Regions from separate parts of the Homo sapiens genome. Here region 2 is linked to region 1. The links come from fine-mapping of genetic effects on gene expression. Tissue or cell type: whole blood. Region 1 holds a variant in brackets; the other region holds the start of a gene. All regions are shown on one strand. Distances are from middle to middle.

Evidence for each region. PIP is the estimated chance that this variant, and not a neighbour inherited with it, causes the effect.
Region 2: it holds the start of MIER3, and the variant in region 1 is fine-mapped to the expression of MIER3 in whole blood (INTERVAL, PIP 0.94).

The regions. Positions count from the first base shown.
Region 1 is chr5:56,775,963-56,784,069 of GRCh38, forward strand. No RefSeq gene overlaps it. Among named protein-coding and RNA genes, the nearest start is that of MAP3K1, 36 kb to the right of the region's middle. The variant C/T (reference allele first, on the strand shown) is at 3,514.
Region 2 is chr5:56,948,999-56,957,105 of GRCh38, forward strand. MIER3 (MIER family member 3) reads right to left here and starts at 3,125. Exons shown (of 13, transcript NM_001297599.2): 1 at 3,096-3,125; 2 at 1,630-1,654. The coding sequence starts at 3,104. RefSeq lists an enhancer at 1,957-2,046 and silencers at 2,617-2,786, 2,847-2,956, 2,987-3,406.

The sequences.
Region 1 (8,107 bases):
ACATGGTGAAACCCCATCTCTATTAAAAATACAAAAAATTAGCGGGGCATGGTGGTGGGCACCTGTAGTCCCAGCTACTTGGGAGGCTGAGGCAGGAGAATGGCGTGAATCCAGGAAGCTGAGCTTGCAGTGAGCCGAGATCCAGCCACTGCACTCCAGCCTGGGCAACAGAACGAGATTCCGTCACAAAAAAAAAAAAAAAAAAAAAGAAAAAGAAAAGGAAAACTAAGTAGGAATTCATTTTCTAGTATTTCTACTATTTTTTTCCTGCTCCCAGCAGATCATCTTAGGAGACTACTGCTTTAATGGATAAGTTCATTTTGAAAAGTAGGGGTGATAATTATAATTAACATTTTTTAAATTATGCTTTAAGTTCTAGGGTACATGTGCACAACCTGCAGGTTTGTTACATATGTATACATGTGCCATGTTGGTGTGCTGCACCCATTAACTCATCATTTACATTAGGTATATCTCCTAATGCTATCCCTTCCCCCTTCCCACACCCCTCGACAGGGGTGTGTGTGATGTTCCCCACCCTGTGTCCAAGTGTTCTCATTGTTCAATTCCCCCCTATGAGTGAGAACATGCAGTGTTTGGTTTTCTGTCCTTGCAATAGTTTGCTCAGAATGATGGTTTCCAGCTTCATCCATGTCCCTACAAAGGACATGAACTCATCCTTTTTAATGGCTGCATAGTATTCCATGGTGTATATGTGCCACCTTTTCTTAATCCAGTCTATCATTGATGGACATTTGGGTTGGTTCCAAGTCTTTGCTATTGTGAATAGTGCCTCAATAAACATACGTGTGAATGTGTCTTTATAGCAGCATGATTTATAATCCTTTGGGTATATGCCCAGTAATGGGATGGCTGGGTCAAATGGTATTGCTAATTCTAGATCCTTGAGGAATTGCCACACTTTCTTCCATAATGGTTGAACTCGTTTACAGTCCCACCAACAGTGTAAAAGTGTTCCTATTTCTCCACATCCTCTCCAGCCCCTGTTGTTTCCTGACTTTTTAATGATCGCCATTCTAAGTGGTGTGAGATGGTATCTCATTGTGGTTTCAATTTGCATTTCTCTGATGGCCAGTGATGATGAGCATTTTTTCATGTGTCTGTTGGCTGCATAAATGTCTTCTTTTGAGAAGTGTCTGTTCATATCCTTTGCTCACTTTTCGATGGTGTTGTTTGATTTTTTTCTTGTAAATTTGTTTAAGTTCTTTGTAGATTCTGGATATTAGCTCTTTGTCAGATGGGTAGATTGTAAAAATTTTCTCCCATTCCGTAGGTTGCCAGTTCACTCTGATGGTATTTTCTTTCGCTGTGCAGAAGCTCTTTAGTTTAATTAGATCCCATTTGTCAATTTTGGCTTTGTTGCTATTGCTTTTGGTGTTTTAGTCATGAAGTCCTTGCCCATGCCTATGGCCTGAATGGTATTGCCTAGGTTTTCCTCTAGGGTTTTTATGGTTTTAGGTCTAACATTTAAGTCTTTAATCCATCTTGAATTAAGTTTCGTATAAGGTGTAAGGAAGGGATCCAGTTTCAGCTTTCTACCTATGGCTAGCCAGTTTTCCCAGCACCATTCATTAAATAGGGAATCCTTTCCCCATTTCTTGTTTTTGTCAGGTTTGTCAAAGATCAGATGGTTGTAGATGTGTGGTATTATTTCAGAGGGCTCTATTCTGTTCCATTGGTCCATATCTCTGTTGTGGTACCAGTATCATGCTGTTTTGGTTACTATAGCCTTGTAGTATAGTTTGAAGTCAGGTAGCGTGATGCCTTCAGCTTTGTTCTTTTGGCTTAGGATTGACTTGGCAATGCGGGCTCTTTTTTGGTTCCATATGAAGTTTAAAGTAGTTTTTTCCAATTCTGTGAAGAAAGTCATTGGTAGCTTGATGGGGATGGCATTGAATCTACAAATTACCTTGGGCAGTATGGCCATTTTCACGATATCGATTCTTCCTATCCATGAGCATGGAATGTTCTTCCATTTGTTTGTGTCCTCTTTTATTTCTTTGAGCAGTGATTTGTCGTTCTCCTTGAAGAGGTCCTTCACATCCCTTGTAAGTTGGATTCCTAGGTATTTTGTTCTCTTTGAAGCAATTGTGAATGGGAGTTCACTCATGAGTTGGCTCTCTGTTTGTCTGTTATTGGTGTATAAGAATGCTTGTGATTTTTGCACATTGATTTTGTATCCTGAGACTTTGCTGAAGTTGCTTATCAGCTTAAGGAGATTTTGGGCTGAGACAATGGGGTTTTCTAAGTATACAATCATGTCATCTGCAAACAGGGACAATTTGACTTCCTCTTTTCCTAATTGAATACCTTTTATTTCTTTTTCTTGCCTGATTGCCCTGGCCAGAACTTCCAACACTATATTGAATAGGAGTGGTGAGAGAGGGCATCCCTGTCTTGTGCCAGTTTTCAAAGGGAATGCTTCCAGTTTTTGTCCATTCAGTATGATATTGGCTGTGGGTCTGTCATAAATAGCTCTTATTATTTTGAGATACGTCCCATCAATACCTAGTTTATTGAGAGTTTTTAACATGAAGGGCTGTTGAATTTTGTCAAAGGCCTTTTCTGCATCTATTGAGATAATCATGTGGTTTTTGTCTTTGGTTCTGTTTATATGATGAATTATGTTTACTGATTTGCGTATGTTGAACCAGCCTTGCATCCCAGGGATGAAGCCATCTTGATCATAGTGGATAAGCTTTTTGATGTGCTGCTGGATTCGGTTTGCCAGTATTTTATTGAGGATTTTTGCATTGTTGTTCATCAGGGATATTGGTCTAAAATTCTCTTTTTTTGTTGTGTCTCTGCCAGGCTTTGGTATCAGGATGATGTTGGCCTCATAAAATGAATTAGTGAGGATTCCCTCTTTTTCTATTGATTGGAATAGTTTCAGAAGGAATGGTACCAGCTCCTTTTTGTACCTCTGGTAGAATTGGGCTGTGAATCCGTCTGGTCCTGGACTTTTTTTGGTTGGTAGGCTATTAATTATTGCCTCAAATTCAGAGCCTCTTATTGGTCTATTCAGGGATTCAACTTCTTCCTGGTTTAGTCTTGGGAGGGTGTATGTGTCCAGGAATTTATCGATTTCTTCCAGATTTTCTAGTTTATTTGCTTAGAGGTGTTTATAGTATTCTCTGATGGTAGTATGTATTTCTGTGGGATCGGTGGTGATATCCCCTTCATCATTTTTTATTGCAGCTATTTGATTCTTCTCTCTTTTCTTCTTTATTAGTCTTGCTAGTGGTCTGTCAATTTTGTTGATCTTTTCAAAAAACCAGCTCCTGGATTCATTGATTTTTTGAAGGGCTTTTTGTGTCTCTATCTCCTTCAGTTCTTCTCTGATCTTAGTTATTTCTTGCCTTCTGCTAGCTTTTGAATGTGTTTGCTCTTGCTTCTCTAGTTCTTTCAATTGTGATGTTTGGGTGTCCATTTTAGATCTTTCCTGCTTTCTCTTGTGGGCATTTAGTGCTATAAATTTCCCTCTACACACCG[C/T]TTTAAATGTGTCCCAGAGATTCTGGTATGTTGTGTCTTTGTTCTCATTGGTTTCAAAGAACATCTTTATTTCTGCCTTCATTTCGTTATGTACCCAGTAGTCATTCAGGAGCAGATTGTTCAGTTTCCATGTAGTTGTGTAGTTTTGAGTAAGTTTCTTAATCCTGAGTTCTAGTTTGATTGCACTGTGGTCTGAGAGACAGTTTGTTATAATTTCTGTTCTTTTACATTTGCTGAGGAGTGCTTTACTTCCAACTATGTGGTCAATTTTGGAATAAGTGTGGTGTGGTGCTGAGAAGAATGTATATTCTGTTGATTTGGGGTGGAGAGTTCTGTAGATGTCTATTAGGTCCACTTGGTGCAGAGCTGAGTTCAATTCCTGGATGTCTTTGTTAACTTTCTGTCTCATGGGTCTGTCTAATGTTGACAGTGGGGTGTTAAAATCTCCCATTATTATTGTGTGGGAGTCTAAGTCTCTTTGTAGTTCTCTAAGGACTTGCTTTATGAATCTGGGTGCTCCTGTATTGGGTGCATATATATTTAGGATAGTTAGCTCTTCTTGTTAAGTTGATCCCTTTACCATTATGTAATGGCCTCCTCTGTCTCTTTTGATCTTTGTTGGTTTAAAGTCTGTTTTATCAGAGACTAGGATTGCTACCCCTGCTTTTTTTTTTTTTTTTTTTTTTTGGTTTTCCATTTGCTTGGTAGATCTTCCTCCATCCCTTTATTTTGAGTCTATGTGTGTCTCTGCACGTGAGATGGGTCTCCTGAATACAGCACACTGATGGGTCTTGACTCTTTATCCAATTTGCCAGTCTGTGTCTTTTAATTGGAGCATTTGGCCCATTTACATTTAAGGTTAATATTGTTATGTGTGAATTTGATCCTGTCATGATGTTAGCTGGTTGTTTTGCTCGTTAGTTTCTTCCTAGCATTGAAGGTCTTTACAATTTGGCATGTTTTTGCAGTGGCTGGTACTGGTTGTTCCTTTCCATGTTTAGTGCTTCCTTCAGGAGCTCTTGTAAGGCAGGCCTGGTGGTGACAAAATCTCTCAGCATTTGTTTGTCTGTAAAGGATTTTATTGCTCCTTCACTTATGAAGCTTAGTTTGGCTGGATATGAAATTCTGGGTTGAAAATTCTTTTCTTTAAGAATGTTGAATATTGGCCCCTACTCTCTTCTGGCTTGTAGAGTTTCTGCTGAGAGATCTGATGTTAGTCTGATGGGCTTCCCTTTTTGGGTAACCCAACCTTTCTTTCTGGCTGCCCTTAACATTTTTTCCTTCATTTCAACTTTGGTGAATCTGACAATTATGTGTCTTGGAGTTGCTCTTCTCGAGGAGTATCTTTGTGGCATTCTCTGTGTTTCCTGAATTTGAATGTTGGCCTGCCTCACTAGGTTGGGGAAGTTCTCTGCGATAATATCCTGAAGAGTGTTTTCCAACTTGTTTGCATTCTCCCCGTCACTTTCAGGTATGCCAATCAGACGTAGATTTGGTCTTTTCACATAGTCCCGTATTTCTTGGAGACTTTGTTCATTTCTTTTTACTCTTTTTTCTCTAAACTTCTCTTCTCACTTCATTTCATTCATTTGATCTTCAATCACTGATACCCTTTCTTCCACTTGATCAAATCAGCTACTGAAGCTTGTACATACGTCACGTAGTTCTTGTGCCGTGGTTTTCAGCTCCATCAGGTCCTTTAAGGACTTCTCTCCACTGTTTATTCTAGCTAGCCATTTGTCTAATCATTTTTCAAGGTTTTTAGCTTCTTTGTGATGGGTTTGAACCTCTTCCTTTAGCTCAGAGAAGTTTCTTATTACCGATCGTCTGAAGCCTTCTTCTCTTAACTCGTCAAAGTCATTCTCTGTCCATCTTTGTTCCGTTGCTGGTGAGGAGCTGTGTTCCTTTGGAGGAGAAGAGGCACTCTGATTTTTAGAATTTTCAGCTTTTCTGCTCTGGTTTCTCCCCATCTTTGTGGTTTTATCTACCTTTGGTCTTTGATGGTGGTGATGTACAGATGGGGTTTTGGTGTGGGTGTCCTTTCTATTTCTTAGTTTTCCTTTTAACAATCAGGACCCTCAGCTGCTGGTCTGTTGGAGTTTGCTGGAGGTCCACTCCAGACCCTGTTTGCCTGGGTATCACCAGCCGAGGTGGCCGAACAGCAAATATTGCAGAATGGCGAATGTTGCTGCCCGATCCTTCCTCTGGAAGCTTCATCTCAGAGGGGCACAGGCTGTATGAGGTGTCAGTCGGCCCCTACTGGGAGGCTTCTCCCAGTTAGGCTACTCAGGGGTCAGGGACCCACTTGAGGAGGCAGTCTGTCCTTTCTCAGATCTCAAACTCTGTGCTGGGAGAACCACTACTCTCTTCAAAGCTGTCGGACAAGGACGTTTAAGTCTGCAGAAGTTTCTGCTGCCTTTTGTTCAGCTATGCCCTGCCCCCAGAGGTGGAGTCTACAGAGGCAGGCAGGCATCCTTGTGCTGTGGTGGGCTCCACCCAGTTCAAGCTTCCCAGCCGCTTTATTTACCTACTCATGCCTCAGCAATGGTGGACGCCCCTCCCCTAGCCTCACTGCCACCTTGCAGTTCAATCTCAGACTGCTGTGCTAGCAGTGAGCGAGGCTCCGTGGGCGTGGGACCCTCCAAGTCATGCGCGGGATATAATCTCCTGGTGTGCCATTTGCTAAGGCCATTGGAAAAGCGCAGTATTAGGGTGGGAGTGTCCTGATTTTCCAGGTACCGTCTGTCACGGCTTCCCTTCACCAGGAAAGGGAATTCCCCAATCCCTTGCACTTCCTGGGTGAGGCAATGCCCTGCCCTGCTCCGTGGGCTGCACTGTCTGACAAACCCCAGTGAGATGAACCCGGTACCTCAGTTGGAAATGCAGAAATCACCAGTCTTCTGCGTCGCTCATGCTGGGAGCTGCAGACTGGAGCTGTTCCTATTTGGCCATCTTGGAACCTCCTCTATAATTAACATTTACATAGTGTATGTAAATACTGCTAAATATTACTAATTCCAGTTCTTTACATATATTAACTTGTTTTACCTTGGTATCAGCCTTATGCAACAGGTATAATTATTATCTCCACTTCACAGATGATGAAATTGAGGTACAGACTGATCACCTAACTTGTCCACGGCTACACAATTACCAAGTATCAGGGGTAGGATTTAAACCTAGGCAGTCTGGAGCTAGAATCTAGCTCATCTAAAACCTGAAGGCCTGGCAAGGTATTATCATGCTAATCAGTAAGTAATCAGGATGCCTATGCATTAGCTTCCATAACACCTGCATAATCGCATGTATCTTACTATATTGTAATTGTTGCTTTGAATACTTGCCTCCCCTGTTAAGCTGAAAACTGCTTTAGAACAAGGACTGAAGTAGTTTTGTATTTACATAACAGTATTGAGCACAGTGCCTGGTACCTAAAAAGTATGTGGTAGGCGCTTGTTGGATGGATAGTTGGATGAAAGAAAAAACAATTTTTAAAAATGGATGGATGGATAGATGGATTTATCCCAACTTACTAGATAGCCATTGGAATTTGAATGTCCTTGAAATAGGGATGAAAATCTCACCTAACAATAAAAATATTCACAGACTTTCTTCTTAATGAGCTAATTCTCTCTTGCTAACCAACATATAGAAAAAAAATTATCTCTTGATGTTATCCAAGCCTTTTCAGGGAGGAAATACTATCCCACTCATGAGCATTTCAAACCCTGCAGAAACCAAAAAAGGTGAAAAAGAAAGGAATGTTGTTTATGGAAATAATACGTCTTGTCAGGAATTTGTGTTTTATCTCATAAAAAGAACAAAACAAAAAGAGAATCTGCCTTATGCTCTGGCATCAACAGGAAACCTAGTTCATTACAAATGTAGCCTGGATACCTCCAGGGGAAGAAAAAGATGAGTGAATGAATGAATGGATAATAGACTTGCCTTTTCTGAAGTGGAATCCAGGTTTTAATCCAGTCTTAATCCACTGTATGTGGTAACAGTTGCATTAGTAATATGCTTTGTCACAACACAAACTACCCAGACTGTAAGACTGTTGGACGTTTATACTCAAACCAAGAGTCTATGTTTTATTCATTTTGAGTGGCACAAATCAGCGCTGAGATATGGGAACTAAACCTTGAAAAGTTTCCTCCTATATTTGAAGCTGGAAAAACTTCAAGGCACTTTGATTCAAATACACATTCTATTAAAATGTGTATCTTGCTTAAGCCCAGGAGGTGGAGGCTGCAGTGAGCAGAGATCATGCCACTGCACTCTAGCACTCCAGCCTGGGCAATAGAGCAAAACCTTGTCTCAAAAAAAAAAAAAGTGTATATATTTCATACCAATTGCTTCTGTACTTAGTGTAGCTTAAGATACAAAAGCCTCTGAATCAAAACAGTAACTGCAGAATTGCTTTTACAAGTCTAATGATGTACTCAATGTAATGTGATAGGTTTCATCTAAATAATGTATAATTTTATCTGTTTTCCATTGCTTTATATTCTGTCAAATGGAAAACAGTTCTATAGAAGTCAAATTCTGGACTTCCTTTGTTATAACTATATTTCAGCTGATTAGTGTTGTT
Region 2 (8,107 bases), 170 kb after region 1:
CTAGCTCCTGTCTTCCATTTGCAAAATACATGGGGATGACTGAAAGGACCTCAAAAGTCCCTTCCAACTCTAAAATTCTCTTTTTAAAAAACTGGCTAATTAATCCCAGCACTTTGGGAGGCCGAGGCAGGCGGATCACTTGAGGTCAGGAGTTCAAGATCAGCCTAGCCAGCATGGTGAAACCCCATCTCTACTAAAAATACAAAAAAATCAGCCAGGTGTGGTGGCGCATCCCTGTAGTACCAGCCACCTGGGAGGCTGAGGCAGGAGAACAGCTTGAACCTCAAAGGCGGAGGTTACAGTGAGATTGCCCCATTGCACTCCAGCCTGCATAACGTCTCAAACAAACAAACAAAAAACAAAAAGAGGCTAATTGATTAAAAACAGGTTACACTGTCTTTTGGCTTATTTAGAGTGCAACTTCTTAAAAGAAGTCAGTGATACCAAATGGAAAAATTCCATTAATCCAGCTGTTTGACATCATGTATATATTTTCCTAAAATCAGTTATAACAAAAAAGTTCATCTCAAAATTAACAAAAATTTTTAGAATTTTAAAGATATAGACAGCTATTTTTAAAATAGCTGCAAATTTCTTCTACTTGGTGTTATAATACCTTAAATGACAGTCAAGTGAGGCTCTGAAGGTGGAGCAGATACAAAAAGTAATAGTGTAAGGAAACTGACTATTCACTCTATGGAAACAAGTTGTAATGGAAGATTTAGGAGCTCATCTGTGCTCCACCACTAACGAAAGTTATTTAAAAGTCTCCTCAACTGTAAAATAATGGAGTTGGACTAGTTCAGAGGTGCTTTTCCTGTAGACTAGGAGAGGGAAGACAGCAAAGAGGTAAGCTAGAAAGGAAATGAGAAACTGAAACAAAGATACCTTACATGATTAGCACATGAGGAAAGGTCCTTATGGACCTGCTACAGGGATTCTACAAACCCCAGATTGTGTGTAATTATGCATATGTGCAGAGTTCTGGGACACATCCCTTGCTTTCATTAGATCCTGACAGGGGTTTCTGACCTCAGGAAAGTTAAGAAACACTGTACTAGATGACCTAAGATCGTCTCAGCTCAGAAGTCAAAATCACCCTTTTTCTGTGCCAAACTTGGAAGTTCTGTCTTTTTTATTAAGGTAGCTTTACCTCTCAACTTCCAATTTTAACACAACTCATAGACATTTAATTATGAAAAAGAAACAACGTAAGAGGAGATGAGGGGTTACAGTTAGTGAAGTAGTCCCAGAGTTCTGACAAATTACTCAATCTCTAGAAGAAACCGAAGTTAAAATCTAAATTGCTAAAGTTGGTGTCAAGTTAATTTGGGATTAACTGTTTCAGGCTCGGAGGAAAAATAAGATATGTAATAATTAAAGCCATATTCCTTAAAAGAACGCTTGTCTTAGCAACTTTGTAACAGTTACTTTTTCAACATGCAAGAGAAAACAAAGAACAGTATAACTGTTTCTTCCCCAAACTTTACTAAATGCACACTGAAACTCTTAAAAATCAATGAAGAAAAACCTGCAGGATACATTTCTATTGGGAATCCTTTAGCAACAGACCTTTGAGCCCACATTACCCACTGGGAACCACCGAAGACGTAAGAAAATAGGACAAACCTGGGCTCGAACTTCCAAAAGAAGCCTAGGAGAGAGAGAAGAAAACGTGAGGTTAGATCGCACAGCCAGGGAAAGAGGCAGCGCCGGCAACAGGGCGCAGAGGAGGCGGAGTCGAGCGCTCCTCCGCAGCTGCCAAAAGTGCAAGACGTAGCTTCACTCGAATCGCTCCCGGCCCCTTTCGGGCCCCCTCTTGGCTGCCTCGCCTTCCTCCCCGAGTCCCAAGTGTACAAACTCACAGACCCGGGACGAAGCCCGGAGTCTGAGAGGCAACTCCAAGTCGCTTCTTGGAGCTCAGCAAGTTTCCAAGCAGAGAAGCAAAACCCAGAGCAGTCGGCTGGCACCATCAGTCCCCCATCCCTGGCATCTCCGGAGTCCTCCAAATCCCACCCGGCTCTCCGAAGCCCCAAACAACTCGAAACGTAACACCCTTTTCTGGAACGAACTCGCGTTCTGAGCACCTAGTTCGCCCCTGGGGCCCGGGAGCCCCAACTCCGAAGCCGATCTCTTCCCCTGCAGCGTAGGCCAGCTCGAATCGGACACTCGCCCCCAAACCAAAGCGCGAGCCCCCCATCCTCTCTCTCGAGTCCAGAGATGCAGCTCCTCTCAGTTCCAGGGATGCTGGCTCCTTCCAGAGTGTTCAGTCCCTCCCTGGACCGTCAGCGCGCCCCCCGCCCCAGCGAGCTCCAGCCCAGGGGCTCCTGCCACACCGCCCCCTCCCCCCAGCTCACCAGTCCCGGGGGACATGGCCGGGGCAGCTTCGCTCGCCCAGCCTTCCTTCCTCCAGCCCAGAGAAAACTGGAGCTATCAAGCCGCTCTCCTGGAGAGGGCGTCGAGGGTCTCGGTCTGCCCTTTAACCCCAGGGGCTCCCGCACCTCCCGGGCTGCGGGGTGGGGAGTCCCGCTCTTCTGAGAAGCCCGGTGGCCCCGCATCCCGCTCTTCTCCGCGCCCCCAGCAAAGTGAAGCGTGCGGCTCCTTCGCGCCGCAGCCCGGGCCCGGTGGGCCGGGGGCACAGCGCACGACTCCCGCAGGGCAGTGGCGCAGCCCGCTCCCCTCTTTGCGATCCGGCCGCGGAGGGGGGGCTCCGCCGGTTTCCACCCACCCGGGCCCGGGGAAGAGGCGCGGAGGCGCCGGCGGCCCGCGTCAGCGACCGGGGACACGGCACTGCCTCGTCCCTGGGGCAGGGCTCACTGCAGCCGGCCGCCACCTCCGTCCGGCTCGGTCGCCCGGCCCGACCGGGGCCGGAGCCGCCGCGGCCTAGTCCCGGAGGGAGACCGCTCCCGCGCCCGCTCCCGCCCCCCGGCCAGCCCCGCCACGGCCAGTCGCCGCCCCGCGACCCCCGCGTCGCCACGCCGCCCCTCATGGGGCAGCGGAAAGAGCCCCGGATCCCCCAGGCTGGCTCGGGGGTCGCGGGGAGCCGCCGGGCGCCCGCTCCAGCCCGGCTGCTCCTGCCCGGTTTCCCTGCTCACCTCCGCCATATTGGTACCTTTAGGGCGAACGAGCAGCGCCGAGCCCAGTCCCCGGATGGGGCGCCTGAGCCAATCGCAGCCGCCGCCGCCACCGCCGCGGTCCGCCCGGCACCCGCCCGGCGGCGGAGGCGGCACGGCCCCTTATAGGGCAGGGCGGCCCGCGACGCCCCCGGCCCGCTCGCAAGCCGACGCCGCCCGGCGCCCCTCGCCGCCCCCGCGCCGGCCCCAGCCGGCCAGACCCGCACCCGCGCGCACCGTCCTTCTCCTCCTGGCTGGTGTAAAGTTCCTGCCGAATTGGAGGCAAGTGGGGGACGGACGGACGCGCGGGCGCGGGACAGACCCACGTCCAGCCAGTGGAGGCCCAAGAGCCGGCGGGCGCGTCTGGGAACCGACCCACAGACACCGCGGCGCGGGAGGGCGTGCGGGAGGCGGGCAGGAGACTTGGACTGGCAGGCGATGTGCAGGGGAACTCGACAGACTCAACTTCCCTAAGAGGAGGAGGCGATCTATGAAATAGACAGATGTGGGAGGAAGCCCTGGGAAATGGGAGAAGAGGCTGGTGGATGGCAGAGTCAGTCCAGAATGAGAGGACTACAGTCAGGCACTTTGCCGTTTCCACGAAGGGACCTGCAGGAATGGGAGATGGAGACCGGTGTACACTGCTCACGGAGTGGACAATGGAAGTAGACATTTGCCAAACAGGTTATTGACAGCACAGAAGAAAAGACAAAAGATCGACAGGGCAGAGAAATGATGCTGAATATACTTGTACAGTTCAAGAAGATGCCCAAAAAATATAAACTGTGCTGTTATCCAAAAAAAAAAAAAAAAAAATTAGACCAGTTCTAGGAATTGTTCATCACCAACGTGTCTTAGGGGATGACCCAGAGATACTTGATACATCTGTTGAAGGACAGGAACAGCATATCAAAGGCCCTGAACTGAGTCTCAAAAATTCTACCCCTCACTTCCCTCACTTCTCCAAAAAGGCCAAACGTTTGGGTAGGATCATAAAAGGAAACTAGTCCCCTGTGCAAGTGGATGGGTGAAAGACGGAGCATAAGGCTTAACAGGAATACCTGCTCGTACATGTTCCTTATGACCATTTGCTCTTCATTGGAGGAGATTACTCTCCGGAAGGTCCACATCCACACTGAAAGACTTTGAGCCAAGTACACAAAAATATACACTAACGACTGATTGGAGAGTTAGGTCCTGCAAGAAGTTAAAGTAAGGTATGGAGTTGCCCTAGCAAATTTGGAGGACACATTGTCCTAAAGTGGGAGGCCAATTCTATCTGTGGAAAAGAAAGTCGGCTGTAAGGTACATGAATAAGTGAGATGCAAATACCATCAGGAATTATAGCAGGACCCTACAGGAATTTGGAGAGAGTGATCTCAGACACCAGAGCTCTTCTCCCAGCTTTTTTCTAAAACATACGTAATATTAAATGATAAAGACAAGTTTTTAGAAGCTAAAACTTTCCATACGTCATACTTTTAATCCAAACATGAAAGGTCTTGATTTTAACCTGGGGTCCCTCCAATTCCCTTATTGCTGGAGTGCATACTGAGGATGAGGCTGGAGACTGGAGGTAGGGAGAGGGTTATTTTCAAATTTTTTGCCAAGGCATCTCAAAATCAAGCTTATGCCACGGGTAAAAGTTATTTACTTATGGAAATTTTAGGGAAAAATCACTCCAACTATTTCTAAACATCATAAAGACATGGAAAATTACACTTTCCCTGCTGTGAAAGATATCTTTCGACCTTTTGTCCAGTCAAATAACTCAAAAACAGCTAAACTTTGAAACCAGACCTTGGCACACATTGTATGTACTGTCCTCAATGAGGCGTTCAGAGTTTTCAAAGTAAAAAAAAATGGCTTGAAATTAAGTACAAGTGAATAACTTTAGAAATGACGCAGTGAGCACGCGCTGTGGACAGAACCATGAAACAGTGCCCTGAGCAGCTGGACCGCAGTCTGAGCCACGTGAAGAAAGTGTCTCCAACAACCTGCCTCATACATTACACTGGGAAAAACATTTTCTTCCCAGCAAACTTGGCTAATCCAAACTATAAATGTAGTCTTAGATTATATGTTTTGCCATAACTGAAATATACACAGATTTATTCACTTTCATGAATCTAGTAATGTTTCTGTAGACTTTCTTTATATTCAATTGTAAAGATTTTGTATAGGCATTTGTAATTTTGATTGTTATATGCTCCCTATTATAGAACGTAGTGTAGGAAGTCTGAGTCCATGGTATTAAATAAGGATTCAGACAAAGATAAATGAAGCTAAATTTATTAGCAGTTGAAGGTAGCAGAGCTACTTTCCCCCACCTGATCACTAGAGAAAGTTTATCACTCAGTCTTACATAACACATTCCTTTATGATAAAGTGTGTAAAGTCTATATGTAGATGGAGCTCTCATTCTTTCTGATTGACAAGACTTTCATGAGTCAGTACAGATTAAAAATCCTTGTGACCCAAGGAGTTTAAATTAAAATACTATTACTTTTTACTTTTATTATCCTGTAACTATGCAATACAGGGCATTATATAGAAAGTGCTAGATGCTGGGCACTGTGGGACCACCATAAAAATGTCCTTGTCCCCCAAAAGCTTACAATCTAAGTAATTTCCATAGGTGGTAAATGGATATGTGAGCAAGGAAAACTAAAAACCATAGTAACCTCCTAAGGAGAACCAAAATGTCATAGATCCTCCAACCATCTTTAGAAAGGAAATAAATCAATACAGCTTTATTTATAAACATGTAATTTTAGAGGCTTCCAGTAAATTCATACAATAAAATAAAAAAACATATATAAAAAAATGAGGACCAACGAAACTAACTAGACTAGGAGGTTAACACCAAAGAAAAAGTAAGGACAAGGATCTGCAGGTTATGAGGTATTAACACAATACAATAGTTAAGCCATAAATGTAGAGCTTTCTGGCAGCCAAAGCAAAAAAGGTGAATGTAATCAGTTGCTTGCTTCTCATTGGAGAAGCATACAAATGTAGGAGAAATATACAAATTCTTTTGGTAACTGTCTATGAAAGTTGAGAGCACAATATGAATGACCTACTGAAAGCAGTTAATGGGGCCACAGTAATGCAACATAGATATTTAGGCTTCTGCAGATTCCATCTAACCCATGGGAAACTAATAAACCAAAGTTAATGTCTCAATCTCAAATGCCCATAGTAGTCAGGCAGGCATAATGAATGAGTGAAGCAGGCTAGTGTAGACAAACGCAGGAGTAATAGCAAATTTGGAGACGTGTCCTACTTAAAGATGGAAACCACTATGCACTACTTGGGTCAGTTTCAGCTTACTGGCCCAATGTTTCCAGTTTCAATTTTCCAAGAACAGCTGGAAAACTGAATTTTTATGTTATATCTCCTGGTCGTAAAATTTTGTCAACTAATTTTTTAAAAATTTAAACACAGTGTAGATCAAATAAATCATGTTAAGTAAATCATATTTAGCCTGGGAGCTTCCAGTTTGCGAACCTGATCTAGAACATCATCTTAGCGTTACTTCTCAGCATAGCTTGTAAGACTGTAATGCCAACAGTTAGACCCAGCATCAGGCCAAACTACTTGCATTTTTCTAAATTTATCTACTTCTCCTGCGTGATATTCAATTAAATATTTTTTGTTGGAATGAATGGCCACTCTCTGAGAAAGCTAACTGATCATAGTAAGTTTTGCCTAAACAAAAGATTCTTAACAAAAGAAAGATGATCTGCATGGTAACTTTAAAAAAGAGAGAGTTCTCACAGTTCAAAAAAGGTTTCAGTTCGTTTCTAAGAAGGGAACTTGGTCCATATACATGAACATATATCCAGCCTGTGAGTCAGGGCCATTCTTAAAATGAGATGGATGCATCAGGCTGACATAGCTGTGCAAGCATACCCAATTGGAACTTCCAAGTCAATGACTTTAAATTGCAGGAACATCCTCAAAAGAATTTGTAATAACTCTATCCCTTCTTATGTATTCCAATTGACTTCTAATTTTGTCATTATAAATTTAAATGGCTGCAAAGGATGTACTTACCTTTCGTAATGATGGTCATTTAAAAATAAAGCCATTATATAACACTTAAAATGTATGCAATGGAATCTAAATACCATAACAATTTGATATTTCATTATTCTTTTAAAAAGACATAAACATGTTTCTTGAATGGTATGAAATTTTACATGATTCCTTTTTCTCCTTGAACTCATATTCCCATTCTACTTTCTCCAAAGAAGTGTAATATGCTTTATGCTTAGAAGTCTTTTGTTGATACCCTACAATCTTTATCTGCAACAAAAATATCCTTGTAAATTGATAGTAAAGAGAAATAATTTTCCTCCAGATTGAATTATCAGTACAATTACTACTAATTTACATTTGATCTAAGCAATATACATGTATTACAAGTTTTGAGTAAAGCTTTTTGAACAAAAATTGCATTGGAAATCAATCTATTGATAAGATGAATAGGATCTTTAAAAATTAATTCATGTACCCATGGATGAATATTACTTAATGCTAGAATGGGAGTTTAACATCAATTTTATTCTTAGTCTTTATTTATACAGAAGTAAGGTTTGAGAAACCATATTCATACACAAATAGATAGAAATGGAAGGGTTTTGTTACTAAACCATCACTCAATTTGTTGATCTCCTTAGTAATATCTCCTTAGTAATACATCATGTTATGATCTTCTATCAAACATTATTTTTAATGATCTATACGCTGATGTTTTAAATGTGTTCCTTCAACTTTGTTGAAAGCTAAGAGTTAAAAGCTACCTGACTTGAAAGAGGATTTTTTACAAAGCTATTATAGCTCATCACTATAATTCACTTCAATTTTGATGAAGATTACCAAAAAAGCCTTTGCCAAGACTTATCAAATGACTGTTAATTGTACTGTTTCACGTAGAGGCAATTATTTAACTCAACAGGCTCAGAAAAGGGAAGGAAAATGGGAGCAGT